4 linked regions of the Homo sapiens genome follow. The protein of the gene in region 3 interacts with the protein of the main gene of each other region in a biochemical or structural test. Each region holds a gene or a part of one and is shown on either strand. Other genes may lie near its edges. The genes, in order: PALLD, PTPN12, SORBS2 and SYNJ1.

Region 1 (7,025 bases), about 17 Mb from region 3:
TATGCAGGCCTGGCCACTCACCAGCTCTCTGACCTTGGAAACTCACTTCACAGAACTCAGTTTAGTTATTTGTGATTTGGGAATAACAACGAGGAATAAATGATATAGGTGTGTGAAGAGCTCCCTGTTAGTTATTCTCTATTCTTCAAACCCAAACTCCACTCCCCCCACCACCTTTTTTGGTTTCTAATGCCTCCTGAAGATGGCCCAGAACTTAAGAATATTTAAAACCCTTTATATCGTGGGTATTGAGAAAGATCATTTGTATCTCTTTCTCCTACTGGCATGCTATGTTTTGGAAGCTAAACCTTTCCTCAGAGAATGACTCTTAAAAAGCCTCCATCTCCCAGCTCACCTTTGGCTTTGGATTTCCAGCCACTCTACATGTGAAAGTTACTGGCATTCCCTCAAAGATCTTGTAATGTTTCAGCTTCATCTCAAAGAATGGTGCCATTCCATTTTCCACAGGCACATCTCCATACTGAACTTCATCACCTGATTCATCCACAGGAGACCTTTCTAGCCTGTACTCTATTTCACTGATGAGTCTCTGTTCACAGCTGGAGACTTTGTATTCCTGAATCAAGGAAAGTTTAAGTTAGCAGACTCAATCCCTTCTGACAAAGTGTCACGTCTCTCCCTGCCCCCCAATAAGGCCCTAGAAGACAGTGATATTTTTACCATACAGCTTAAAAACACAGTCTGAGCCCAATTCAATTGCATATGAAACAAAAAACATCTGGAAGTGAGTTTATGTGGTATTTCAGATTGTCTTCAAGTCCTATCATCCAAAAAGAGGGGGGTAGGAAAGATGAATTTTTTTTTCCTTCTTTTCTCTGAGGCGAGGGGAAACAAGGGGAAGGAAAGAAAAAGGCAAAAGCAAAGCTATGTATTCCTAAACTGTTGATAACAATAAAATATAATGGAACGCTGATTTCCTTCTGTAGGGTAAAAGCTGATGCAGGGTGGTACATCTCTCCACATAGTACATGTGGCAAGCAGCTGCCATATTATATACAATTATAGTAAAAGAATAATAGAAAAAATGGTACTAGAAAAAATGGTAATAGAAAAAATAGTAAAAGAATAATAGAAAAAAAAAAATGTTTGTTTTTTTTCCCCCACCTCTAACAATCCCTGCCTTGCAAGGGCCGCCTCCTCAGCTCTGCAGCTGTTAGGAACCCACCATCTTTAGAAGAAAAAATAGGACTGACAGTCTAGCCAAAATTTTGCTTTAAAAAAAAAAAACAACCCATCAACATTCCTGTGGTGATTACGGTGGATCCTACAATTTCCTTGCCTACAAAGTGCATTAAAGGCCAGGTACAGTGGCTCATGCCTGTAATTCCCAACACTTTGGAAGGCCGAGGTGGGAGGATTGCTTCTGGCCAGGAGTTTGAGACCAGCTTGGGCAACAAAGTGAGACCCCATCTCTACAAAAAATTTAAAAAGAACAGTAGCTGGGCATGGTGGTACATGCCTGTTGTCCCAGCTACTTGGGAGGCTGAGGTGGGAGGATCACTTGAGCCTGGGAAGTCGAGGCTGCAGTGGGCCGTGATTGTGCCACTGCACTCAAGCCTGGGCAAAAGAGTGAGACCCTGTCTCCAAAACAAAAAAGTGCAATGAAGACAAGGGAGTCTATGTAAATATTCCCTATTTAATATTAAATGAAAGATAACTTTAACTATGTTTTCTCTTAAAGAAGTTACTCAGTGTTTAAAAAACAAGTTTGTTGGTTTGAGGGAAGAAATACAACAGTATGAATAAAACTGCAAGAGTTATACCACAAGTTGTTTTGCTTCATCTAATTACTATCAAATTAATCCCTTGAAGAATTAGCACTTTTGTTCCCCATAGAAAGGTATATATAACAAATGAAAAATTTTTCTTGATTTAATGTTCAGAGTATCCACTAATGACAGAATTAAATTCAAGTCAGAGGCCAGGCACTGTGGCTCATGCCGTATTCCCAGCGCTTTGGGAAGCCAAGGCGGGTGGATCACCTGAGGTCAGAAGTTCGAGACCAGCCTGACCAACATGGTGAAACCCCATCTCTGCTAAAAATACAAAATTAGCCAGGCATGTTGGCATGCACTTGTAATCCCAGCTACTTGGGAGGCTGAGGCAGGAGAATCGCTTGAACCCAGGAGACAGAGGTTGCAGTGAGCCAAGATCACACCATTGCACTCCAGCCTGGGCAACAAGAGCGAAACTCCATCTCAAAATAAATAAATAAATAAATAAATACATAAAGTAAAAATAAATAAATAAATTCAAGCTGGTAAATACATGACAAGAAAACTCATGTTGCAGTAATTTTGTGTATCTGATATTAAATGAAACAGACACTGGTCATAGCATTTATAATTAATATATGGCAGAAAAGATAGAAACACACGTAAAACAGGAAGAACAGAAGAAAACAGACACAGAGAAAGACTGGAAGGAGAAGAAAGGTGAAAAGCTTAACCTTTTGACCATCCAGAGGACTCCCTACAGAAGCATGAGGAGAACCAATGTCCTGTAATGGTAGAAAAAAAGATGTGAAGACTAATAATAGAAATAATAAGAATGCAGCAAGATTTCTAATTTTCCTTAAGTGAAACTTTTGTGCTAGCAATATGCGTTTGGTAGTAACGGTGCTGTGAGTACTCACACAACCATTCTGCTTCTCACTTTTGGTACAGGACTCCATAAATCACATGAGATATTCAATACTTTATTTTAAATAGGCTTTGTGTTAGATGATTTTGCCCAACTGTAAGCTAATGTAAGTGTTGTGAGCACATTTAAGATAGACTAGGCTAACCTAAGATGTTCAGTAGGTTAGGTGTATTAAATGCACTTTTTTTTTTTTTTTTGAGATGGAGTCTCGCTCTGTCACCTGGCTGGAGTGCAGTGGCACGATCTTGGCTCACTGTAACCTCTGTCTCCTGGGTTCAAGCGATTCTCATGTCTCAGCCTCCCGCGTAGCTGGGACTACAGGCGCACGCCACCACACCCGGCTAATTTTTGTATTTTCAGTAGAGACGGGGTTTCACCATGTTGGTCAGGCTGGTCTTGAACTCCTGACCTCAGGTAATCCACCCGGTCTTGGCCTCCCAAAGTGCTGGGATCACAGGCGTAAGCCACTGCGCCCCGCCTTAAATGCACTTTCAACTTACAATATTTTCAACTTATAATGAGTTTATCAGGACATAACCCCATACTAAGTTGAAGAACATCTGTATATATGTGAAAGAAGATAAAGAGATAATATTTTCTATTTTATTTTGACTAGATATTAAGACTAAACAGTTGATCTTTGAACAACACAGGTTTGAACTGCATGGGTCCACTTATATATGGATTTTCTTCCGCTTCTGCAACCCCTGAGATAAGCAAGACCAACCCCTTGTCTTCTTCTCTTCAGACCACTCTAATTTAAGACAATGAGGATGAAGACCTTTATGATGACCCACTTCCACTTAATGAATTGTAAATGTATCTTCTATTCCTTAAGATGTTCTTTGTAACATTTTCTTTTCTCTAGCTTACTTTAAGACTACAGTCTATAATACATATAACATACAGAATACGTGTTAATCAACTCTTTGTTATCAGTAAGGCTTCTGGTCAACAGTAGGCTGTTAGTTAAGTTTTTGAAGAGTCAAAAGTCGTATATGTGTTTTTAGTTTTGTTTTGTTTTGGAGACGAAGTCTCACTCTGCTGCCAGGCTGGAGTGCAGTGGTACAACCTCAGCTCACTGCAACCTCCACCTCCCGGGTTCAAGCAATTCTCCTGCCTCAGCTTCCCGAGTAGCTGGGACTACAGGTGTGCGTCACCACACCTGGCTAATTTTTGTATTTTTAGTAGAGACGGGGTTTCACCATGTTGGCCACGATGGTCTCGATCTCCTGACCTCGTGATCCACCCACCTCAGCCTCCCAAAGTGCTACAATTACAGGCATGAGCCACTGTGCCCGGCCATATGTGGGTTTTTAACTGTGCTTGGGGTTGGTCCCCCTAACTCCCGTGTTGTTCAAGGTCCAACTCTAATGGGAAATATTCACTAGTTATTTCAGACAATGTCGGCGAAAATGTGTTTCTCCACACAAAATTATTTTGCATAAAACTTAGGATAGGAAAATGGAAATGTACTGGAAAGGAGAATAATCAAGAAGAAGAATAAAAAGAACAGGTATCACTGATGGAAAGAATTCTGTCAGTCACTTAACATAGTATGTGCTCAATAAAAATTAGCTGTGAGGTTGACTGATGATATTAATACTGCTTTTCTGTGACTTGCCCTCTACTTTCCACAGAACTCATCCCAAGAACAGTATCCATAAGGAAGATGGAAAAGGGGGACAGAATAAATGTTACCCTAAGAAGTCCAGAGCAACATGGTACCTGATTAGCTGTTTCCTCTTCTGGCTCCTGAATATTAAAGACAGTTGCACTGTCAGCACCTAGCAGTCGACGAGCCATTCTTTCTTCGTATGTTAACCTCTAAACAACGTAAGTCACAAAAAATACAAAATTAGAAAAAAATCACAAATATGTACTGCCCTATGAAAAAGAGTAAAAAACAACACACTTTCATGATTTTCTGTAAGTGTTCTCTCTCCAGCTTCAGATACCTGCATATTTCTTTTTCTTGCTTCAGTTGTTCTACCTTTTTACCTCCCTTTCTAGTACTAATGGCCTAATCCAGAGAGCCACCAATTGGTACAGCACAAATTTAAAGTGAGCAATAAGCGACAAGGAAGAAACCACACAGAAAAGATTTGTCATGTCCTTAATGAAAAACATGGAAAAAAAGATATTTAAACAGCAAAATACAATTTAAAAGAAATGTTATTTTTATAGCCATCCATCAGCTTCAGAACACCCAAGTCAGCTCTAATACTGACTGAAAGAAAAAACAAAGATACTCAAAAGGAGAATAAACTGACTAAAAAAAGAACAGGTATCGCTAATGGAAATAATTCTATCAGTCATTTAACAGTATGTGCTCAGTAAATGTTTAGCTAAAGGAAGATGTGGATGAGCTGGCAGTGATGGGGTTCTTACCTCTAAGAGCATTTCCCAGGCTGCTGTGTAATGTAGGGGATTGGCGGCAACTATTATAATCCACAGAGAATGATGCACATGGCTGAATTAGCAACAGGATTACACAAGACACTTGCCAAAGCTAACAGCCTCAATTGACTTGACCCAGAAGCAGACTGCTTGCCCATCAGGCAAAGAAAGTGGTAGTGTTCTTGCATCTCGCAGCTAGCACTTTGGAATTGGCCCAAACCGTTTTACCTATGCCATTCTTATACATAAGAAATGCCGGCATTTTTGTGTGACTGTTGGGGTGATACCTGCTCTTGAATACTCATTCTAAAGTGCCTTAGACTTACAGGTTTGGAAGGAACTTTCAGATACCACCTGCCTCATCGGGAGCATTTTATAAGCAAGTGTTTGATTAGAAATAGAGAATAATTGGTAAGGCAGAATCTAAAAAATGTACAGAAATTATTTCAGATAAACTTCCAAACTTCTAAATATAAATGCAAATTTGATTGGAAGCTCTCTAATCAGGAAAATATGTTGGGTAAATTTACAATTTCCAGTAATTGCTGATCTCAATCCCAGCTGAAACCGGGAAGTGAAACAAGTCAAGTGCCAAATGACAAATAGTCCTGCAGTTCAAATTATTTCACTTAATAAAGAAAGGTCAGAGGACAAGAAGAGGCAGAGGTAGGAGTCTGAGGGCGGCATGAAGCATCTGAGTCCACTATGTTATTAAATTAATTTTCTCACACCTATTAAAAAATCAGTGAATTCAATTTTCAAAGAGAGTCTTAAATACCTGATCTCTTAAAAAGCTTCCCTAATCTTTTCACGGAGAATTGTAACACATCAAAGGCAGGCCTGGAGTGATTTTCACTCTGTTCCTTATAAGCAGAAATATCAATTTCATATCTATTCCTTCACCAGAATGCACCTGCTACCACTAGAAGCCAAATATACTTCACAGTTTTTTTTCTAAGTCACTATGCCATCTGGCTATAAAAGCCCGTGTCTACAGACACCAAAGATAAGAAAGAGAATGATATATAATATTAGGAAAAAGTTGGTTGAGAATCCCATTTTCTAAAAAGGGAAACCTTACTTGTCATTTTAAGCTCTCAAGTGTGGATACCTGTGGAACTTACTGTGAATGTTATTCACTGCTAAACAGATGAATATAAATATACATACAATATATATAATGTGGGTTGACCAATAGCTTAAGGAAGTCTTACCTTAACCAAGAGAATCTTAGTTCATAAGGAACATTGACATAGACAGCCAAAAAGAAAAAAAAAAAAGCTGGAGTGATGCCTTACCTGGCTTGAAAAAGTTCCCATATGTATTTATTTTAATCTTTTAAAAGATTTAGTTGACAGAGCCAGGGAAAACTTCCAGAGTATGTACATTTACACATGCAATCACTTATTTCAGGGAGAAAATATTTTCCTCTTGTGAAAATCTTCTATACTCAGTGAAATGAGTAACTAACACAAAACTTCATTGAAATTTTAATCTTTCTTAATCAGATTAAGATACCCTAATAAACTAAAATCAGCATTCAGCACCCCTCCTCTGCTCTCCAGCTTTCAAGTGTGGTCTGTTCTCACAGTTTTACTTATCAATGTTTGATAATTAAAATTCTCAGAAAACATAATTATAGAGAGCTTTCTACTCTGAAAAAGGTGTCTGAAAGGGAGATTTTATACAAAAAGATCCTTGTCTTGTACTTAAGAGCCAGGCAAATTTTTCCAGTGACAATTCCTTAATAAAGCTACAGAAGGTTCCTCTCCTTTACCTGGTAAGTCTTATTTTCTAGATTTGCTTTTCCCATCCCCTTAAAATATTCTGGAAATAGTATTTTAAAAAGAAAAGAGTATTTTAAAAGGATAGCATCAACAAAAGAGATGAAAAAACAAACAAAAACTGATGAGGAAAGACTTAAATCCAGTGGAGAAAACATCTTATCTATATATTTTACC
Region 2 (7,025 bases), on a different chromosome or scaffold from region 3:
TAGTTTTTGATGAAAAGCCTTCCTATACAAATGGATTTATGATTGAACAGGAAATTATTTTAACTAACTTATAAGAAGTCAAAGTGAAAGCAATTTCTTTATCTTTTAATTCTATAATTAAACATATTGTTTATTTTTAACTGGTCAATCCTACTTAATTAAATGGTCAACTAACCACTGAATTAACCACAGAAAAAAATAGTTTTAATGAACCAAGTTGTTAACTGATTCCCACATCTCCACCAGCAAGTTACTTTCCTGGCCCATGAATAAAAAGTAGCCCTTTTACTTCGTTAATTATGAGCATTACGGTCAAACCAAGTGAATAAGAAAACTATCTTCAATGCTTCAACTCCACTGAAAAAATATTTTAACTATGTAAATAATAAAAAATAAATCTCTTAAGTTTGAAAAATCTCATTTACTTTTTATAACAAATGTGAATGCAGATAACAAGTCCCTTAGAGGAATAAATTGATAGCAGTCTTATGAAGTAAGTACTATGACTGTAAGGCCTTTAGAAGAATCTAATGTAAACTAAAAATTCAGAGTAGAAAAACTGTCTAAGGATTCAAGTAGCTTCTACTATGTAGAAACCCATACCTATATAATGAAATTCCAAAAATTAGGTTTCAAAATATCCTGTATCACCCATATTATAATGATACCTATATTCTTTTTTTTTTTTTAAAAGATAGGGTCTACTATGTCACCCAGGCTGGAGTGCAGTAGTGTAATTGGTGTCTACTGCAGCCTCAAAGTTCTGGGCTCAAGCAATCATCCTGCCTCGGCCTCCCAAAGCACTGAGCCACTATACCCGGTCATGACACTTATTGCAAACATTTATTATTTTCTTGACTAATTCAGTTTTGTGCTTTTCCTCTTAAAGGGGTATTTTCCATTACACTCCTAAATCCATAATACAAATTTAGCTTTGTTTTATGTATTACATATAATGTATACATATACATATATGTGCATATGTATTATGTATATTTAGCTTTGTATTATTTGTATGAGAATGACCAGATGACAGAAATAAGCCAAAATGTTAGATTAAGAAAAGTTGGTTATCTTAAACTGATTTCTCTTAGCTAAAATATATTATACATTAACCCCCCTTCTAGAATACAAAATTAACTGCCCCCCAAGAATAAACAAATCTCATGTTCATTCCCCCAAAGTCAAAGGAAGAGTTTACATGATTTCTTAACACATCCAAACGAGTAATTTTGCAAAACCTAACTGAACTTCAAATATTATTTGAATAAATGAAAAGATTTATATTGTGCAATTTAAAGTAGGTGCACCTATACTTGTCCTTTCACATTCAGAGGTAGCTTAACTAGGTCAGTAATCATTGAATTTTATGTAATCCTTATAATGAAGTAATCTACTATAAAACATAATAAAAATGTCTAGTAAATGTGTATCAATAGTTTTTATTACTTTACTACAAGAATGCTTGCTTCCGGCTTTAAATTTTTCAGTAGCTATAAATTATAAAATTTCATGATATGACAGGAAGTGGTGCAAACGTGGAAACTGATGTTCCCCAAGAATAAAAACAGCATTTAGTTTTTCATCAAACTAAAACACACTTTTTCATCTCAATGTAACAGCTCTGAGATTGGTATGTATCTTACCACCAATGGCTTCTTACAAATGACATTGTCCCCTTATAATTGGCAGTGATTTTTTTACTGTTAATATATATAATAATGGTGTGTCTTAGAATTGATGATATCTTAGATCAATAAGACCTACGTATGTACATCTTACATATATTAAAAAAAGAAAGTCATGTTGCCAGGCGTAGTGGCTCACGCCTGTAAGCCCAAGACTCTGGGAGAGCAAAGTGGGAGAATCACTTGAGGACAGGAGTTCGGATCAGCCTGGGCAACAGAGCAAGACTTGGTCTCTTAAAAAAAATTTTTTTTAATTAAAAAAAATTAGTTCAGTGTGGTAGCACATGCCTGTAGTCCTAGCTACTTGGGAAGCTGAGGCAGAAGGATCACGTCAGGCCAGGAGTTTGAGTTTACAGTAAGCTATGATTGTGCCACTGCACTCCAACCTGGGCATCAGAGCAATATCCTGTTTTTAAAAATCTCATGTCAGTGTTTATCAGGAATGAAAATTGCTTGGTCATTGTTTCAGGGAAATTGATTAAAAGAAAATACTACCATACTGACTTTAGAAAGTAGAGTATGATGAGGATCTGAGATTATATGCTCTAATCAGTGAACAGTAAAAAGAGTATGTTCTATAGCTTCCCACCATGTGAATACTATTTTCAAATAGATGATCCTGTGTTTTAATGCAACAATACTCTAAACGGTCTGTCAACCAAATGAGACCACATCAACTTACAAGGCCCTAGTCCCAAACATTGTATCAAGGCTAGGAGAAATTCAAGATTACTAACATATTAATGCAGAAATAAAACCTTGTGTAACATCAAACTTAAATAATGTATTTATAAACTTGGGAAATTCTTTTGTACCTGCAATGAATACAAATAGGAACATCTTCATGTTCTTGATATTTCCTCATTAAGCTTATCATGTCCAGAATAGAATCAAATGATGAAGGAACATCATGGTCTGGCCAGTTCACATAATGAAACTGATACAGCCTACGAGATTCCTTCAAGAAAAACAGAAAGTCAACAATTATGAAAATACTTTGCAAAGTTTAAAGTTGCACAGCTCATTTAAACTGCCATTTCTAAGAAATTTGTGTGGCATTTAGCACTGCTTTTAAAAAAACCCAAATAAATAATAGCCAACACTTATTGACTGTTAAACACATGCCAAATACCTAAGGGCTTCACATGTAACAATTTAATTTCCATGAGGAAAGTACTGTTAATACCATCCTCATTTTATAACTGAGATATACAGATAAAATAACTTGCCCAAACTTTCCTAAGAAGTGACAAGTGTGGGCTCTAAACCAGGCAGTTCTACTTCCAGAGCATGTACTGTAAACATAACACTATATATACTATTTAACTAATCTACACTATTAAATGGATGAGCAATATACCGTAAGCACCATGTTAGAGTAGGTTAGAGTAGTATTCATTGTAATCAGAAGACTAACAGAACATTAAACTGAAAAAGAATGGAGAGATGAATTTGTCCAATGCCAAACTCACTAGTCTTCTTACAGATTAGTGGTTCTCAATATACGGTCTGGGTACCCCCTCCCCTCAACCCTTTTGAGGGAGTCTATGAGCTTTAAATAATTCTCAGAATAATACTAAAATGTTACGTGCCTTATTCTTTAACAGCCAATACAATATATGCTTATGTATTCATGTTTTTTAAAAATTTCTCAGTTTTAATTTCAAATATAGTATATACTGAAAGATACAACCCCCAGAAACAAAAACTTTGGGATCCTCAATAACTTTGAAGAATGTAAAGGAGTACTGATGTCAAATGTTTTGAGAATGGTTATTGCAGGTGTTTAACAGAAAGAGCAATACTCGGAATCTAAGCAAACCATACTCAAATTCCTACTTTGGCCATTTCCTAAATAACTTCAGGTAAGCTATTTAACTTCTTAAAGCTTCTGTATCTTCATCTATGTGCAACAGACGTAACAGTATCTGGATATGATGCAGTTAGCAGAATTAAGATGCCTGATCTACCACAGAAATTCATTAAGGTACTTATTATTATTACCGTAGATTAAAAAATTAGCAACCAGTCCAGATTCAGTGGCTCACATCTGTAATCCCAACACTTTGGGTGGCCAATGCAAAAGGCAAGATCACTCAAGGCCAGGAATTTGACAGCAGCCTGAGCAACATGGCAAGACTTCATCTCTATAAACTATAAAAAATTTAGCTGGGTTTGGTGGCTCATCCCTATAGTCTCAGATACTAGGAAGGTGGAGATGGGAGGACTGCTTGAGCTCAGGAGTTTGAGTCCAGCCTGGGCAATATATAGTGAGACCCTGTTGCCAAAAAAAAAAAAAAAAAAGTCGGGGCGCTGTGGGGGGTTTCAACTAAAAACAATATATATCTAAATGAAGACTTAGCTTTGATAGTGACTTTTCTTTAACAAATTGTAAACCAGTAAAACAGGGTAATAATTATATAAACAATGCAATAACCTGCTTACTGCAATAGAATAAAAATATTTGCTGCAAAGAAGGTATAACTATTCCAAATTTAACAAATTTAGGGTATGTTATAATTAATATTACTTTTTATGTAATGTGATAAGCATAAATGTCAAGACTAAATATTACACTCTCATTTCATCTTCGTAACTAAAAAATTACCAAATTTCATTAATTATGTTAAATAACATAGTATACTATTTATATAGCTTGTTTTATTTTTTTAGTAGCTAAAAGTTGATTAGTTTGCAAAGACAAAAACTAACTTCACATGCTTTAAAAATAAAAATTGCTGTTACTTTTTTTACTTACAAAAAACTATAAAGCAGATATAAAGCAAAATAATAATATATATTATATATATTATTTGCATTTTGCAGATATAAAGCAAAATAATTTTCTAGCAAACCCATTTTACCAAATAAAACATTTAGGTAGTAGTATTATATTTTCTATTTTTAAAACATTTATTTTATTTTTTATTTTATTTTTTGAGACAGAGTCTTGCTCTGTTGCCCAGGCTAGAGTGCAGTGGCACCATCTCGGCTTATTGCAACCTCTGTCTCCCAGGCTCAAGCAATTCAAGTGCCTCAGCCTCCTGAGTAGCTGGGATTATAGGTGTGCACCACCATGCCCAGCTAATTTTAGTATTTTTTAGTAGAGATGGGGCTTCGCCGTGTTGGCCAGGCTGGTCTTGAACTCCTGGCCTCAAGTGACCAACCCACCTCAGCCACCCAAAGTGTTGGGGATTACAGGAGTGAGCCACCATACCTGGCCTCAACTTTTATTTTGGATTAAGGGGTACATGTGCAGCTTACATGGGTGTATTGTATAATGCTGAGGTCTGGAATACAAATGATCCTTACCAAAGGAGTGAGCATACTACCCAATAGGTGGTTTTTCAGCCCACGCTCCCCTCCCTCTCTATGTCTTCTCTTTGAAAACTATTCTCTATTCTCAAAACCATTTTTGAGAGTCTCCCTCTGTTGCCCAGGCTGGAGTGCAGTGGCACAATCATGGCTCACTGCAGCCTCAACCTCCCGGGCTCAGCCTTCTGAGTGAGTGGGACTATGGGCACATGCCACCATGCCCGGCTAACTTTTTTCTTTTTGTAGACACAAGATCTCACTATGTTGCCCAGGCTAGTCTTGAACCCCTGGACTCAAGTCACCCTCCCACTTCAGCCTCCCAAAGTGTTGGGATTACAGGCATGAGCCACTGCACCCAGCCTGAAAACTATTCTTACAGATAGTCTATAAATGGTAAGTACCTACATTTTGAAATTCAAGTAAGAGTGTCCTGATGAAGTAGTCTGTTCTTGCTTGTTCATCCTCCTAAATAAAGAGAAACATTTCTAAGTCAGTGAAAACGTTAAAACAAAAAGACACATCAAAACAAATAAAATACTTGTATCAAAGTCCACAATATAAAATTAATCTTTAAAATTCCAGATGTACCTGATAATTATAAAAAAATTCTAAAAGTCATCAAACATTTGAAATGTTTGAAGTGATAGACATGCTAATTATCCTGATTTAGTCACTCCACATTTTAAATTACACATACATGTACCAAAATCACATGTACCCCATTAATAAGTATAGATACTATGTGTCAATTAAAAATAATAAAAGGAAAAAAAGAGCTAGTAAGCCATGAAAAGACATGGATGAACCCTAAATGCACATTACTAAGTGAAATAAGCCAATCTGAAAAGGCTACATACTGTATGATTCAAACTATATGACTTCTGAGCTGGGAGCAGTGGCTCATGCCTGTAATTCCAGCACTTCAGGAGGCTGAGGCAGGTGGATCACTTGAGGTCAGGAGTTCGAGACCAGCCTGGCCAACATGGTAAAACCCCATCTCTACGAAAATACAAAACTTAGCTGTGTGTGGTGGCGCGCACCTGTAATCCCAGCTACTCAGGAGGTTGAGGCAGTAGAATTGCTTGAACCCAGGAGGCAGAGGTTATAGTGAGCTGAGATAGTGCCACCGCACTCCAGCCTGGGCGACAGAGCAAGACTCCGTCTCAAAACAAACAAACAAACAAACAAAAACAAACTATATGACTTCTGAAAAAGGCAAAACTATGGAGACAGTAAAAATAATGACTACCTAGGGTTGGGAAGGGGGTGAGATGAATGAATAGGTGGAGCACAGGACTTTTAGAGCAATGACACTATTCTGTATGATACCACAATGGTGGATACACGTCATCATATATTTCTTCAAACCCACAGAATGTATAGCACCAAGAATGAACCCTAATGTAAAATGTGAACTCTTGGTGATAATGACTTGTCAATGTAGGTTTGTGAATTGTAACAAAGAGACTGCTCTGGTAGGGAATGTTGATAATGAGGGCTACATGTGTGGGGACAGGGTGTATATAAGAAATCTCTGTACCTTCCTCTCAATTTTGCTGTAAACCTAAAACTGCTCTAAAAAAAATAGTCTTGAAAAAGTTAGGCAGTGGCTCACACCTGTAATGCCAGTAGTTTGAGAGGCTGAGGTGGACGGATCGCTTTAGCCTAGGGGTTCAAGACCAGCCTGAACAATATAGCAGAACCCTGTCTCTACAAAAAAATACAAAAACTAGCTGGACATTGAGGCGTAAGCCTGTGCTCTCAGCTACTTGGGAGGCTGAGGTAGGTGGATCACTAAGCCCAGCAGTGAGGCCAAGGCTATATAGTGAGCTGCGATCACGTCGCTGCATTCCAGTCTGGGTGACACAGTGAGACCCTGTCTCAAAACAAAAAACACTAAAAAAAAAATTTTTTTAAAAACCTTAAAATGAAGTCTCCTATCAGATAAAGTCTCCTAACAGATAGACCCAAACAATATGTACAAATAAGAGAAGTGAATTTGGGAATCAAGTTACCTACTAA
Region 3 (6,930 bases):
AAATATTGAAGTCTGAGGTTACCAGTACAATGTCTGAATGCAAAATTCTGGACACTGGACAAAGTACTTTAGAATCAGAGGCCAGCAAAGCTCTGGAAGGCTGTGAACAGGGACAAATGCAATATGGTTCAGCAGACAGAAAGTCAGAAGTAAGATTCAGATGTAGCCAAGCAGGGTGGGGGACAGTGAGGGGGGATGTCTAGCTGGACTTGAAGGGCGTATGAAAGCAGCTGTCCTTGCAGGGGAGATTTAAAGGAAATGACTCTTCAGGGGGCACTGCATTTGCAAAAAAAAAAAAAAAAAAAAAAAAAAATCTGATATAGTATGTTTTGGAAATTCCAAAATATTTGATATTGCCAGCAGAAGAGTTGGAAAGTGGCAGAAAATAAGGGTCTAAAAATAGCCATAAGCGAAAGTGCAAAGTCTTGAAGGATAGAGATTATGTCTCTGAACCTGGTTCTCAAAATTGTTGAATTATTAACTATGGAGATGCGCTGTACAGAATTGAACTTAAAATGGTCATCTGTGTATAGCATGTCATCTTAAAAGGTTACTAAAATAGGAAAGAACTTGCACAGGTATAAAGTGTGTGCCATTCCTCCCGTGGGCTAAGGGTCTTGTCTCACTTGGTGCCACTATCAATGCAACAGGCACAGCAGTCGGGTGTGCCCTGGATATTTCTACACCTCATTCTTCTAAAAGCTCCCCCAAGAAAAATTAATAGGAAATCAGGTGCTTGCTGCAGGTCTTTGCACTGTGTCAATTCTAAGAAATCCTTTGGCAGTGTAAAGCTTTGAAGGAAATTAAATTGGAGAGAGATTTTCTCTACCTTTCATTCAGCTCATATAGAATCCCTTACTTAGCTGATATTTTTGCTCATAGAATTGGACTCAGAACTAAGTCTGTTCATTTAGCTTTCCTTTGAATGTTAAACATAATGAAGTACAAGGCCGTCACCTCACCATTTTATCCCCTACAACCCGCATAGGCGTACACTTATCACCAAACGTTTGCACATGTTTGGCTCCACTGAGATTCTTAGTCTCTATCTTTATATTTTGACTATTTTGACATTTAGAACAAAAGTTTGGAAAACTATTCTCCTACTGCTTTAGCATTCTCTTATCTTAGGGCTTATGAACATTGCTACATCTCTGAAACAGGCGGTTCCTGCCCATATCTATCAGTGAAAATTATACTTAAAATTCTGAAGAGACTCATGTCATCCAGATTTTGGAGGAAAAAGGTAGCAAATAAAAATATACTTCTTAGAAGTAGATCTCAGTTACTACTTATTTTAAATTTCACAGTAGATTCCATCTTTTGTAGATAGGGGTTTTGTTCAAAGTTTTTGACCAAACATTTTTATTAAATATTTTCAATAGTATTATAAGTGATCTGACATTTTTGGTAACAAAACAACCAAAGAACTGACTTGAGTAAAGCTGAAATGTTGCTGAACCAGAATCTAATCCTTACTCCGTCATTTTCTTACCAGGGATTTTGATTTGACTGACCAGTTTCAATCCACAGTAACAGCTTTGTTCCTAAGAGACTATAAATCAAGGAAATACTCACTACCAGGCAATTCCTCCTGCAATTCGGGGTCTGTGCTGTTATTATGAAGCAACTGACAGCAAACATTTGCTGCAAGTATGAGCGCAGATTTGGATGAGGTGTGCGGTGTTTTTGGTTTCACTCTTTATCTCTGAAACCTATCTGCTTGTGAGAAAAATTGTGCAAGAAAAGAAGTTTTACTGCCACATACCTCAGCTGTCCTAGAACTCAATGCAGAGGCTTCGCTTCCTTTCTTTCCTTGGATTCTGAGCCGGGGGAGCACAATGGGGGTCTTGTGCTCTGGGCCAGCAAGGCATGCAGATACTCGGAAAGGAGGTGTGAACGGCTTCCAATACCTACACTGTTTGCTTTACAACTACCCCAACTAAATCAAACAGGACACCAAGACACTCAGTCCAGGGTAAGCAAGTACAAAATCCACTGGCTATTATGACCCACATAGAGAACAGAATTCTTCAATTTAAGTGTGTACATAGCTGTGTTAAGAGTTAAATAAATCATTTACGAGGCTTAAAAAGAAATGCTTCTCATGTAGTTCTTTTTCATGTAGTTCTCTGAATACAAGTCAAAGTGCAGGTCACGAAAGAATCCATTGTTCACAAGCGAGAAATGTTGTTGGCTGTGAGGACGGTTCAGAACAAGCCATCGTAGTCTGCTCAAACAGTAAATATTGGTTTTAAAACCCCAAAGCATATCGGTCATGTTTTTTATCTTCCAATTGCTAGAACCAAAATTCACTGAAACAACTCTATGTCTCTGATACTATTTTCTAGAAATGTGTGTGTATGCGTGTGTGTATGTGTCTGTGTATGTTTGTTTGGTAAATCCAAATCACACAATCAACGTAAATCTTTCAGGCTAAGTTTTGCCCCAGTTATTTTTATGCTGTGCTTTCAAAAAGGTCAAAAAAGCTTACCTCTGTCAGTGTACTGGGACGCTCAGGAAGCCCCTTCTCCGCCTCGGCCTCAGCGTGCAGACATATGCCCTGGGAGCCCACAATCTGTTAACAGGAAGCAGGTAAACCCGAGAGCGTCCGCCTGCGTTCCAGTCCAGTGCCCGTCCCAGCACACACCTGCTTTTTCAGACCTGCCGCTCATATGCCACAGCCACGCACAGGACCAGCGTTAGCAGAGTGCAACACCCTCCGTTTGGATCCCTCGTTTTCAGGGTAAGCAGCTAGGGAGCTGCTGAGATAATATTGCAGGGAAAGCTTGCCTTCCCAAGACAAAAACCTTTGCTGCTGCCTGATAGCAGATATGCAGCATTATCACTCTGCATTCCACATTCTCCAATCAGCTAATTGGAACGGCAGTCAACAGCCTGTCCAAAAGGCAGCTTGCAGGCCTGCGTGGCTGTGATCATTGTATACTAACATGCCCATTGCTTCTCTCTTCCCTGAAGAGATGTATAAAAGAGGCTTCTTCCAGGGCGAAGCTCAGCAGAATATGCCACACTGTTTTCCATAAGTAAAATGGCTGGTCCTCTCAGCTCTGCTGCAGACAGCTCATTGGGTTCCACTGGCTTTTCGTAGCCATAGCAACAACCAACAGACAGACTTAGCAAGCATGGCTGATCATGTGCAGCACACTCACACAGCTTGTTAATTTCTTTTCATCAAACTCATCATTTTTTTGAGGAGGGTAGCTTCTGTTATCTTTCTACACATTTCACCGATAGTGCAAGTGCTCCGATTTTTCTGCTCTCCTGAAGAACTCTTTTTTATATGAGCCGGGGCTATGTATGAAATCGAGGAAGTGAAGCCCTATTAGTGGCTATCCAGGTTAATAACATGCAAATCACTTAAGAGACCCTAACTGGAAGCATTGTCAAAACAAGCCCCACCTTCCAGTCATAGAATGAGTGCAGAGAGCTGCAAACGGGAGAGTTACACTTTTTGTTTTTAAATGATAATCTTAGAGCCACTTAATTGAAACAAAACCCTGTGAATTGCTATATAGGGTCAGAATAATAACTAAATCAGGTAGACTATTTTAATAAGATCTTTAAATATCCATTTACTTATGGCTCAACTTATCTGATTACTTTAAGATGCTTTTTATGCAATTTAAAATAGAATTTTTAAAAAATCCTATTGCTTCTACGGCAGAAAATGATTCTTTAACTCAATCTTATTTGTAAATTAAAAATTCTTTTTAAAAAATCCGCACCTAATTAAAAATTCTTTGACTTTAAACATTACCTTCAAGGCAAGAATAGTTTTACTTCCTCAGTAAAATGGATCACATTCCACCCGTCCATAACATTTCACCTCCTCTGGGAATCTACCATGATTAATGCCATGAACAACGTAAATCTTCTGCAGAACCCCCAGGCTTTTCTTCTTTTTCAGGACTCTATCACCAGTCATATTCTATCTGATATATTTCCAAGGCACTGTCCCATTTATTTTTGTTTCTAGCAATCTGTTTCAAATAGTTATGTTAACACTTTGGACTTGTAAATATAGATGTTCTATTTGCTAAGTAGTCATTGATTTAGGATTCCGTCAGTATTGCGTTTCCCTACCCATGTTAACACTCCTGCCTTCAGTATTAATTCCCAAATTTTGACTGCATAGGAATCCTGTGGATGTAGATTTGGGGATGCCCGCTCCCCTTCCTCCCCAACCGGATTCACATTAGGTAGGTCTGAGCCACCCAGGGTCAGCGTATCCATGGAGGACAAGTGGGTGGCGCTTTCCTGCTTGGGAGAGTCCTCACCGCTTCAGATCGCCTCCAGCCAGCCTACCTTTTCTCACTGAAGTTCCCTTCCCTGAAGTTATTTTGCATTTGCTGTTGCTGAGCGTGCCCCTGCCTTCGCCCTCAGCCTCCCATTCTACTATTCACTGCCCACGTTTCAGAATCCTGCATTACACACCATTTCCTTGCCCTGCAGATGCTGCTACTATTAAAAACCTTCTCAATCTGACTGCTCCTCGCCCCAGCACCTTTAACCTCCATCCCAATCTGCCTCCTCTTTTATCTTCCAACACCTGGCCCAAATGGACCACCTCACTCATGACTCTCCCAGGTGGGGTCTGAGCGACCTCTTCTGCGACTCCCCTGTACCGGGGTCCACCTCTGCTATTACAGGCCTTGTCACGCCCTGGGACTTCTTAGCAGTTCTCCTTTTATGTCTGACTCCCAGACTGTTCTATCAACTCTCTGGAAGCCAATCTGGTCCATGTCTTCTTTGCCCTCCATGCTTGGAATATTCTAATTTCTCAATGCCTCTAAATGAGGACCTACGACACTGTATGAATAGGGACTGATGACTGGCTGGTGTGAAATCTGTGTTTTAATTTACTTTTCAACATCACACATTTGTTGACTCATCACTTCAGAAGAACTTCAGTGATTTTGACAAAATGCTGGCATGTTACAAAAGGATATCAAGAAAACTCTAGGTGCACTTGATGTTTTAGGGTGGCTTTTCTTTTCATTGTATCTCTGAAAATGTCTTTATACCCTCACACTTGATTGATTGGTTGGCAAGGCATAAGAATCTCTGGCCGTGGCTCACACCTTTATTCCCAGCACTTTGGGAGGCTGAGGCAGGTGGATCACTTGAGCCCAGGATTTGAGACCAGTCTAGGCAACAGACTGCATCTCTACAAAAAAAAAAAAAATCAAACAAACAAACAATTAGCCAGGCATGGTGGTGCACGCCTGTGGTCCCAGCTACTCGGGAGGCTGAGGAAGGAGGAATGTTTGAGCCTGGGAGGTCGAGGCTGCAGTGAGCTGTGATCACATGACTGCATTCCAGCTTGGCAACAGAGGGAGACTCTGTCTCTGTTTTTAGTAGCAAAACAAACAAACAAACAAACAAACAAATATCTGAAGTCATTTTCCTTTGGAATTTCAAAGGCCTTCATCCTTCTTCTTGTATCTCCTCCTCCCCTATACCTCCAATTCCTGCTCCTCCAAAGAGAACTGGAAGTCCCCCAGTTTGCACTGAACCGGAACTGGGAAGCTGGCAGGAACTGAGATGAATCCCTTTCCCCTCTTTGCCCCGTGGCACGTCTCCCGGCATCTCTACTGGCCTTCACACATCACTCTGCTGCCAGTCTGTTCTTCCAAGGCTCTTGGCTCCTTCGCCTGCTCGAAGCCCCTCCCTTGTAACTTGGTGCACTGAGGCCCATTGGCATTGCTCTGACCTCAGGCCCTGCCCTAGCCCAGGTCCCTGACGTTTATTCTCCTTCCAAACGTGTTTGTTTTAAAATGTGCTAGATACAGATTTCCAAGAGACAAATCTGATTTTTCCAGCCCATCTTTCTGAGTCAAGTGAGATACCACCTATGTGGCCAGCAGCTTTATACATGGGCTGCCCTGTGCCTTGGTCCAATCAGCTATGACAAGGACACTTGGCATTATCTAGTTTTAAAATTTTGCTAATATAATAGGTGCAGAGTAATGGCCCATTATTGTTTGAATGTGTGTTTCTCTAATTACTGACAAATTGAACATCTTTTCATTGTTGATGGTTTTCAGGGTTCCCTCTTCTGTAAATTTTCTGTTCATAGCTTTTGCCTGTTTTCTCTATTGAGATTGTTGTCTTAGTGTGGAATTTTAAACAACGTGGTCATAAAGGTATTTTTTATATATATTTAAACATTATAATTAAATTTGTTATATTATTAAAGGTTATTAAGATATCCACTAACATATAAAGGGAACCCTATAATTCACACTGCTAGTTGTTTTGGTTTTTATTATGAAATGAAAATACAGAATGTGTGTGAAAATCTCCATTCAGAAATTATGTTCAGTATGAAAGCGTAGAATACCACACCATAATATGATTTTCTAAGACAAATATTTGTTTAGAAGGATTTTCAAACAAATATATTATCATCAAAGAATACATATACACACACATATATATGCTCTAATAGTATACGCACACACATATATATGGAGAGAGAGAGAGAGCTATCTATCTATCTAGCTTCTATTTTAAGTTATACCGTATGCACACCTACACATCAATCAATCTACCTATCTATCATCTGTGTATCATCTATGGAAGGCAAACACAAATGTGCAAAATGCTAACACCTGATGAATCTTAAATGAGAATATTTTCAGTTTATTTTACTATTCTTTGCACTTTTCTATAAGTTTGATTTGTTTTCAAGATACAAAGTTTTAAAAAATGAAATAAAATGAGAATAAAAATAGTGTTTAGAATAGACACAGAGTTAAGGTTAAGATTAGTTGATGAAGACATAACTATTTATCAGAGTTGAAACTAAAGAAGTTAATAAGTTATGGAGTAACTAAAGTGATTACTACCATTACTGTTACTCTGAGGAGGCTACTCTGGTAGAGAGTATTGGAAACATTTTGCACT
Region 4 (7,938 bases), on a different chromosome or scaffold from region 3:
ATGTTTTAGGGCCTTTTGGTAAAAACAAACCATTATTTGGCATAAAAGACGGCTGCTGGAGGTTTTGGAAATATTATTATTCTTAGGTTTCCTAACCTTGGAGTAAAGTGTAGCAATAATTCTAAAAACTATAAGTAATACACAGTTTGTAGCTGAACATTTGACTTGCTATTATGAGTAATCATAATTAAAGAAACATTTAGAATTTATACAAGATTAGTAAGTCAGGTAACGTCACCAAAAAACACAAGCAGCTGAAAAATGCTTCCCATACAAAAACAAACATTCGCCCCACCCAACCCCCACAATATTTTAATTCAGAATTCATCAGTATAAGAATTCCACTTGTAGTAAAAAATATATGCAATGGAAATTAATACTGTACCAAGGTATAGTTTAAATACAAAAAACAACTTGAAGCAATTAAGTCCATACTGATTGAGTATAGCCAATATTATTTATACTTATTTCTTGGAAGACCTAGAGCCCCTTCTCCTTCATTCAAAAAATATATGTACCAAATATATATTTCTTATATACTGTTCTTTGCTTAAGACTTTTCATTATGTCACTATCTTTTTCCCCATCAAGATGCAATTATACTATTTAGTCAAGTTAACACTTTAACTGACATTAATATTCTACATGCAAAGAGTGAGGTCTTATGCTCTTCATTTATTGAGGCTGGAGAAAGCTTAGTAGTTTAAGATATTTAAGGGCTTATATTTGTAAGTATGCCTTTCAAACACTATTTTTAATTTATAAAGATATAATCAGTAACTAAACTAATCCCAACACTAGGATTATTTGCCTAAATCATATATATGTGTATATATAATCATATACTTTTTTTTCTTTTTAATTTTTGAAACAGGGTCTCACTGTGTTGCCCAAGCTGGAGCGCAGTGGCGAGATCAAGGCTCACTGCAGTCTCGACCTTCCAGACTCAATCAATCCGCCCACCTCAGCCTCCCAAGTAGCGGGGACTAAAGGGCACACGACGGAGCCGAACTACTTTTTGTATTTTTTGTACAGAAAGGGTTTCACCACGCTGCCCAGACTGGTCTCAAACTCCCCGCCTCAAGCGATCAGCCCCCCTTGGCCTCCCAAAGTGCTGGGACTACAGGCGTGAGCCCCCACACCTGGCATATCTTACATTAAGAAAGACCCAGTATCCAAATTAATTTTAATTTCATCCATCTGCCCCTAAAATAACTCAAACATTACTAATCTATTTTTCTTGTGGTACAATAGTCCTTTTCTTTAAATTAGACTATCAAAATACTTTTAAAAATAATACAAAATCAATCATGTATCTCACATGAAAATCTAGAGGTTGTTTACAATTCCCTTAATGAAAACACAACGGCCATAACAGAAATACTCCAACAATATTGGATAATATTAGATAATACCTACTACTATAACTGACCTACCAGTAAATATGTCAAGCAAGACACTGTATGGGTTTATGTGATACATGATACAAACTGAAACAATATTTCTTTGGAAAAAACATTTACTTTTAGAAGCAGCAGCAGAACCCAAGAAAGCAAAATCCTGCAACCAAAACCTGCATCTCCCTGCACCCCCTCAACAAAAACCTGTTAACAAAAAGTTTGCAGGAAAATAAGTTTGATTAAAAGGAAATACAAGCATAATCTGCTAGAGGAAATACAGTGAAAGGGTTGTCGGGCTCTTTTCTAAAAAATGGTTGCATCTGAATTGTTTCAAATCAAAACAGAGACCATGACAAATTGGGCTCTAACAGATGACTTACAGAGCACAGCGACAGCCCCAGACTCGAACATGAGACATTCTTCCTTATGCCTAGTTTCCACTATGAGGCTGAAAGGTGGGGGATCCAATTTGTGATAGATCCGGAATCCTTTACTGAACGCCATTCTCCTTTCTTCGGAGGCAGCCCTGCGAAAACCAAGCAAAGCAAAGCAAATGAAGCTGATGTTTCCTTCTGCAGCAAGGACTGCAAAGCATCCAAAAGTCCCTCCCCGCCAGGTTTTGATGGGGGGTTGGGGTGGGAAAAAACAGACAGCTCTGGGAGAAAATGGCTTTTTCCAAAAGATAAGTCGTCACTTAATTTTACCAAAAAGCAAGAGGAAAAGCTATCAATTCTCATACCAAGGCAAGACAAGGTTTTAGCACTGTAAGTCAATCAACGGTCTGGTTGAGTTTCCCGTTTAATTTATGCTTACTGAAAGGAAAAATTTTGAGCGTATTTCGTCCGGAGCTGTTTATCAGCTTCCTGCTTCAAGATCTGTCACTACGTTGAAAGGGAACCTATTTGGAAACTTCAAGCAGTTCCTTCGAGGTGAAAGGAGCGGAGGTGGGAGGGAAGGGTGACAAGGCTGGTTCAAAGCTCCTTAGGGGGCAGGAGAAGGAAAAGGATTATCCCACGCGACAGGCTCTCCCGGGGGTGGCGATGAAGGGCAAGGGAAAAGGCACAGGTTACCGCCGCCTCTCCTGCCCCGGGCTACCGCCGGCTGGGGGGACGGCAGGCGGGGCCGATAAATACGAATGGCCACCCGGGAAGAGTCACGACTCGGGGCACCGACCCGACTGGGGCTCCTCGGGGGTCCCGGGCAGTCGACTGCCCGGGAAAGCGGCTCCTTCTCGGAGAGACGGAAGAGCCGAGCAGCCCAAACCCTCCATTTATGCGCCAGAAGAGATACCCCGGCGCCCAGGCGGATTCGGTTCGTTCCCGCGGGCGGGCTGACAGCCGCTGTCACCACAGCCCCCAGCCTGACGCGGCACCCCGCACAACCAGTGGTCTGCTCACAACCCCGCCCGTCCTCCCGCACCCCGGCTGCTCGCGGTCGCCCCTCACCGCTCCCGCTGACGCTGCGGAGGCAGAGACTGGTCTTGGAGGCGTCCGCCCGCCCGGCTGCCCGTGGGTCTGGCCGCAGCAGCTCCCCGCCCCCCGCCGGCTTGCTCACCTCTTCCTCCGGCTCCTCCTCCTCCTTCTCCCGCAGCCGCCGCCACAGCCGCCGGGAGCGTCACTTCCGCTCCAGCAGGCCCATCTCTTCCGCATTGCGCCGCGGCCGGGGGCGGAAGATCCGCCCCGCGCGAGGGAAGGGGCGGGGCATCAGGAGGGAGACCACGCCCACTCTGCGCCGACCGGCTGGGCCTGGCACCCGCGGGCGGCCCCAGCCTCAGTCTCCAGCTACCTTTGCCTCCTGCGGCCGCCCCCAGGCAGAGCTGCGATCCCACCGCCGGGGGTGCAGGGAGAGGGAAGATCTGGCCTCCTTGGTCCTTTTGCGTGGGCTCTTCAGAGCGTGAGCGCCGGGGAGGGACTCCGGAGAAAAGCTTGGGGGGCTGCGTATTGCTGCTCCCCAAGCTGGGCGTCAGGACCAACCCCGCCGCCCCCACGGGCCTGACGGGAGAGGAGGAAGGGCTCGGGACGGTCGGCTCGCCGAGCCAACCAGGTGGCGCCTGAAGAGCTGTCCATGGTGTCGACAGCCCAGCAAACGGCACCGAGTTCCTAGTCTGAGTGTCTGGATAGGTAGCAGAAGAAAAACTAATGCCTGCTCTGGGACAGTTCTGTTCGGTGCCTTTTCTTGTGTGTTCTGGAGCTCACAGGGTTCTATCGAAGAGTGCTTAGGTGTATACGATGGAGAGTGGGACGTCACAAACCAGGATCTCAAGGCTGAGTCCAACAAAACATGGCCGTAGGGAGGCCACGACAGCTGTGGTTGTCACCGACGGATGAATAGCTTTTGCCAACCGTGGAATTTAGTAACTAAAGGCACCTAACCCTTTTATCTCATCCTCATTTTTCAACAAATGGTGCTTCCTGGCTAATATCAGCGTGTCCCATAGATTTCTGCTTCCATTGAATAGACCTAATAAGAAAGAGAATGAAGTCAAAGCCAACAGGGCAGAAAGAAATTGAAAACCTGAAGAACCCAGCACTCAAACTGTCTCCACTTGCGTTTGCTTTTTCTTTACCTCTTCTCCTTCTGGTTTTCAACAGCCAAAGCAGGATTTAAATTTGGTTATGTTGCAAAAATCATTTCCCTCTTCAGGCCCTGTCATGTGACTTGATTTTTTCGTCCATTTTAGAGAAGCTGTACCCACCCTGGTTTCAGGACACGGAACTAAATTTATTAGAAAAGAAGCCACTTCAAGTCATGAAGGAGAAACACAAAGATTCTTGGATTTAGTTCTAAGAACTAGAGGGGATTTCTATGTCAGTACTGTCTCAGAAAAAACTGTTGATATCAAATGTGTTGCTTGAGAAGTACCTTTTTTTTTTTGAGACGGAGTCTCGCTCTGTCCGCCCAGGCTAGAGTGCAGTGGCGCGATCTCGGCTCACTGCAAGCTCCGCCTCCCGGGTTCACGCCGTTCTCCTGCCTCAGCCTCCCGAGTAGCTGGGATTACAGGTGCCCACCACCACGCCCGGCTAATTTTTGTATTTTTAGTAGAGACAGGGTTTCACCGTGTTAGCCAGGATGGTCTCGATCTCCTGACCTCGTGATCCACCCGCCTCGGCCTCCCAAAGTGCTGGGATAACAGGCGTGAGCCATCGCGCCCGGCCGAGAGGTACCTTTTATGACAACTGAAATCATTCAGTTTCAAGAGGAGTTGGGTACTGAAACCAAACTTGCTTACTCCAAAGCCCAAAATCCTTTCCACCATGCCTGTGTGTCTGTAAGGCTACACTAGAAATGCTTCCTTTCTTATAGTGGGAAGCATGGGTACTAAGCTCTTTTACGAACAAGTGTTCTGCATATTCCTGGTTCCTTTTTATTTTGGACTGAGGAGATTTAGGTCAAAATTTCTGGGTTCTGGGTTGGAATTCCAGCTTCTTTCTTCAAATTAAACTGGGGGGTAGCAAGACTTATTCCTAGATTTGTTAGAAGGCCACAGCTTTTCCACATCTCATTTTAGTCATGAAAAAGACACATGCCCAGAGTTTGAAAAACATAAAGGCAATTTGACTAGTGGCTTGATTGGTTCTATCTTCTTTTTCTTGTCCCTCTTTCCTATTTATACTTCTACTTTTGTTACAGCATTTGACAATAGTTGGAAAAATTTTCACTGACCTTGAAATGTCTTTGGGATAGGGTGACTTAAAATATAGGTTAAGTGGCATACACAAACTTCTTAGTGAGATCCTAAGGGCCTACAGAGACAGGCTGACACCAACTCAACCCTTGAAACTGTGCAATGAAGAGCCTGTGGGAGGCTAAAAAACGCTACTTCAAAAAGAGATCCTTGTCTGTGAATGTTAATTTAGGTTTACAGATTTGATTAAGGGTCTTGAGATTATTTTCAATTATCCAGGTGGGCCCTAGAGCCCTAGATGCAATCATAAGTGTCCTTATAACAGGGAGGCAGAGGAAAATTAAACACGCACACAGGAGAGAGAGAGAGAGAAAAAAAAGTGATGTGAAGACAGCAGCAGAGATTGGAGCGATGTGGCCATAGCCAAGCTATGTCAGCAGCCATCAGAAGTTGGAAGAGGCAAGGAAGGATTTGAGCCTAGAGCCTTTGGAAGGAGCATGGCCCTGTTGGTTCTGGCCTCCAGAACTGCAAGAAAATACATTTTTGTTGTTTTAAACCACCCAGTTCATGGTAATTTGTAACACCAGCTACAAGAAATTAACACAAGGCTGATGTGACTTTCCATCAGGAGAGAGACAGCCCCAGGTAGGTGTTTCAGATATCACATCCAATAGAACAAATTAAAGACAAACACCCTAAATTCTAGATGTTGATTTGTGAGCAAGTTATTTCTCCTATGGGCAACTCTAGTTGAAATATGCAATTCATTATGTTGAAACATGGAATTGTTATTTTCATAGGTTAAAAAAAAATCACATAGTGGCAATATAGTAGTAGTGCTCGTTTTTTGTTTTTTGTTTTTTTGTCAAAAATGCTAGACAACATGGAAGATCAGGGAAATATTAACAGTCTGATTCAGTAACCTTTAACAGCTTCTTTTCAGGTTACACAGGCTAAGCTAACTTTTATATCAGGATCAGGATCTGCAGAGTTATTAGTATAGTGCTCTGCAGATCCTGGTCCTAGTATAGCAGGATCTGCAGACCCTAGTTGTACCTGGCCATGTTCCCCACCAATGACTGAGAAAGAAATGGCTCGAACAGAAAACAGTGGTCTTGAAAGGCAACGCAACAGTAGGTTACAAATAGCATTAGCTTTTTCTTTAAAGAAATTCATTGTAACCAGTGAAGGATAAGATTTTAAATTAGAAAAATGGAAATCCTATGAATAAAAAACTAGTAAGCTTGAGAGCAGAATCACTGTGGAAAAAAAACAGATTGAAAAATAACTTGCAGGTATCATAGACAGGAAATTGCCACTAGAGAAAACAGGAAACTTGTGATAGATAAAAATGAAGTATTTTCATTTGGAACAAGAGACCAACTGAAGAGAGATCAAGTGAAGGGGGTTTATTTTAATGAAACACAAAGATTCTTGTGGAAATCAAAGTGCCGGAGCCAGAAACAGGGCTCAACCTTCAAGATTAGAGCTGTATTCAAGTTGTTCAAGTTGGCTCTCGGTCCCAAAGCAACAGCAATGTCACTAAGGTTACAAGTAAAAGGTAAGCTTTCATGATCAAAATGTTTTTGCAAAGTAGCTTAAAATGGTTTCTGCAGTGTTTTGTCAAAACTTTTCTCATACATTTTCCTAAAGATATTTAGCAAGAGCCTAAGAAGTCATGTGCTAGGGATTTTCATTGTACTGAATGATTGTATCCTTTAAGCCGCTGCTGGAGTTAGGACTGACAGGAACGCAGTACAAATTACTGGGGGCTAGAGTCCCAAAGCAGGCCAGGGACCAGTCTACATTGCATGTCGATACCAATCCCATATAACAATATTCAGCCTGTGTTTGGGCAGTCTGAGGCAGCTTTTAGCAGCTGTGAACCCAGTATCCATGGACAGTTTCATTTCTGGAGGGCAGTCTTCAAAACGTTTATGAAAGTACACCTCCCATTCAGATATGTTTTTTTCTTCCTACATGTAGTGCTAGTGTTTTTCTCATTTTCATTTACTTGAAACAACAGATCAAATGTTTTGTCATAATCAGTGAATGGCAAGACTCCCTTTATTACATGGGTATTACCATGTTAGAGATAAGAAGAGCTCTTGTAACCATTAACAACCACTACAATGTAGCAACTTACAGTTTCCTATTTTATATTGCAGCTCTGTAACATTTGACTACTTTTGTAAGAGTTTCATGATTTCAAGGATGATTATTAGCATTTTCAATTTTTTGGCCAATTCTGGGTGCTGGTAATGTTACCACTGCAGGCAACTATGGCTCTACTCAACTGAAGACCTCTTATAGGCAATGTGGACCATACCTGCTTTCCTGAGAGATCAGCAAATTGGGTTTGGTCATCAGGAAATTCTGTCTCTCAGATCTCATACTAGCAAGGAGACCCCTGGTTGTACCTGTCAGAGCTGCCAGTTGGCCCTGCTGAAACTTTAGAACTGCACCAATGTCTAAGACTTTCATCCTCCTTCCTTCACACAGGTGAGACCTGCCTGCCTCATTGTCTGACAGCTTTCCCAGCCTCCTCCAGGCTCCCCTCCGTTTTCTCTTATACGCATTCCCCCAATAAACTTCCTGTACATTTAATACCATCTCAGTGTCTGCTCCCAGGAGGACCCTAACTGACACACTGGGGCATTTAGCCTCCAATTCCTTTTCTCCCTTGGCTGAGATCTGTTCCAGGAAGTATCTCCAGGACACTCCAGCCTGTTGCACAGGCCAAAGAAAAGCCCTCAGGCAGAGGAGCAAATACTTGCAAGAGGACACCAGTGGCAAGAACAGGGACATGGTGAGACTTCGACATCATTGGCTACAGTAGTACTAGTCACTCTTGACTGTGGTTTATGTTGTTTCAATAAAGTAGCTTTCCTTCTCAAAAACATTTGTCACCTA

What was found.
Region 1: the proteins of SORBS2 (region 3) and PALLD form a complex in vitro, tested with the Homo sapiens proteins (one study listed by BioGRID).
Region 2: the proteins of SORBS2 (region 3) and PTPN12 form a complex in vitro, tested with the Homo sapiens proteins (one study listed by BioGRID).
Region 4: the proteins of SORBS2 (region 3) and SYNJ1 form a complex in vitro, tested with the Homo sapiens proteins (one study listed by IntAct).

Annotation. Positions count from the first base shown.
Region 1 is NC_000004.12:168,892,045-168,899,069, reverse strand, and holds part of PALLD (palladin), read right to left. Parts: intron 4,585-7,025; exon of another isoform or gene 4,492-4,584; coding exon 4,393-4,491; coding exon of another isoform or gene 4,305-4,392; intron 3,478-4,304; exon of another isoform or gene 3,318-3,477; intron 2,522-3,317; coding exon 2,471-2,521; intron 578-2,470; coding exon 356-577; intron 1-355. UniProt on the Homo sapiens protein: Cytoskeletal protein required for organization of normal actin cytoskeleton. Roles in establishing cell morphology, motility, cell adhesion and cell-extracellular matrix interactions in a variety of cell types.
Region 2 is NC_000007.14:77,596,285-77,603,309, reverse strand, and holds part of PTPN12 (tyrosine-protein phosphatase non-receptor type 12), read right to left. Parts: intron 5,469-7,025; coding exon 5,409-5,468; intron 2,647-5,408; coding exon 2,504-2,646; intron 1-2,503. UniProt on the Homo sapiens protein: Dephosphorylates a range of proteins, and thereby regulates cellular signaling cascades. Dephosphorylates cellular tyrosine kinases, such as ERBB2 and PTK2B/PYK2, and thereby regulates signaling via ERBB2 and PTK2B/PYK2.
Region 3 is NC_000004.12:185,809,170-185,816,099, forward strand, and holds the start of SORBS2 (sorbin and SH3 domain-containing protein 2), read right to left. Parts: upstream 3,026-6,930; 5' UTR 2,495-3,025; intron 1,936-2,494; exon of another isoform or gene 1,769-1,935; intron 1,726-1,768; exon of another isoform or gene 1,579-1,725; intron 1-1,578. UniProt on the Homo sapiens protein: Adapter protein that plays a role in the assembling of signaling complexes, being a link between ABL kinases and actin cytoskeleton. Can form complex with ABL1 and CBL, thus promoting ubiquitination and degradation of ABL1.
Region 4 is NC_000021.9:32,724,992-32,732,929, forward strand, and holds the start of SYNJ1 (synaptojanin-1), read right to left. Parts: upstream 2,955-7,938; intron 2,949-2,954; exon of another isoform or gene 2,846-2,948; intron 1,927-2,845; coding exon of another isoform or gene 1,905-1,926; coding exon 1,781-1,904; intron 1-1,780. UniProt on the Homo sapiens protein: Phosphatase that acts on various phosphoinositides, including phosphatidylinositol 4-phosphate, phosphatidylinositol (4,5)-bisphosphate and phosphatidylinositol (3,4,5)-trisphosphate. Has a role in clathrin-mediated endocytosis.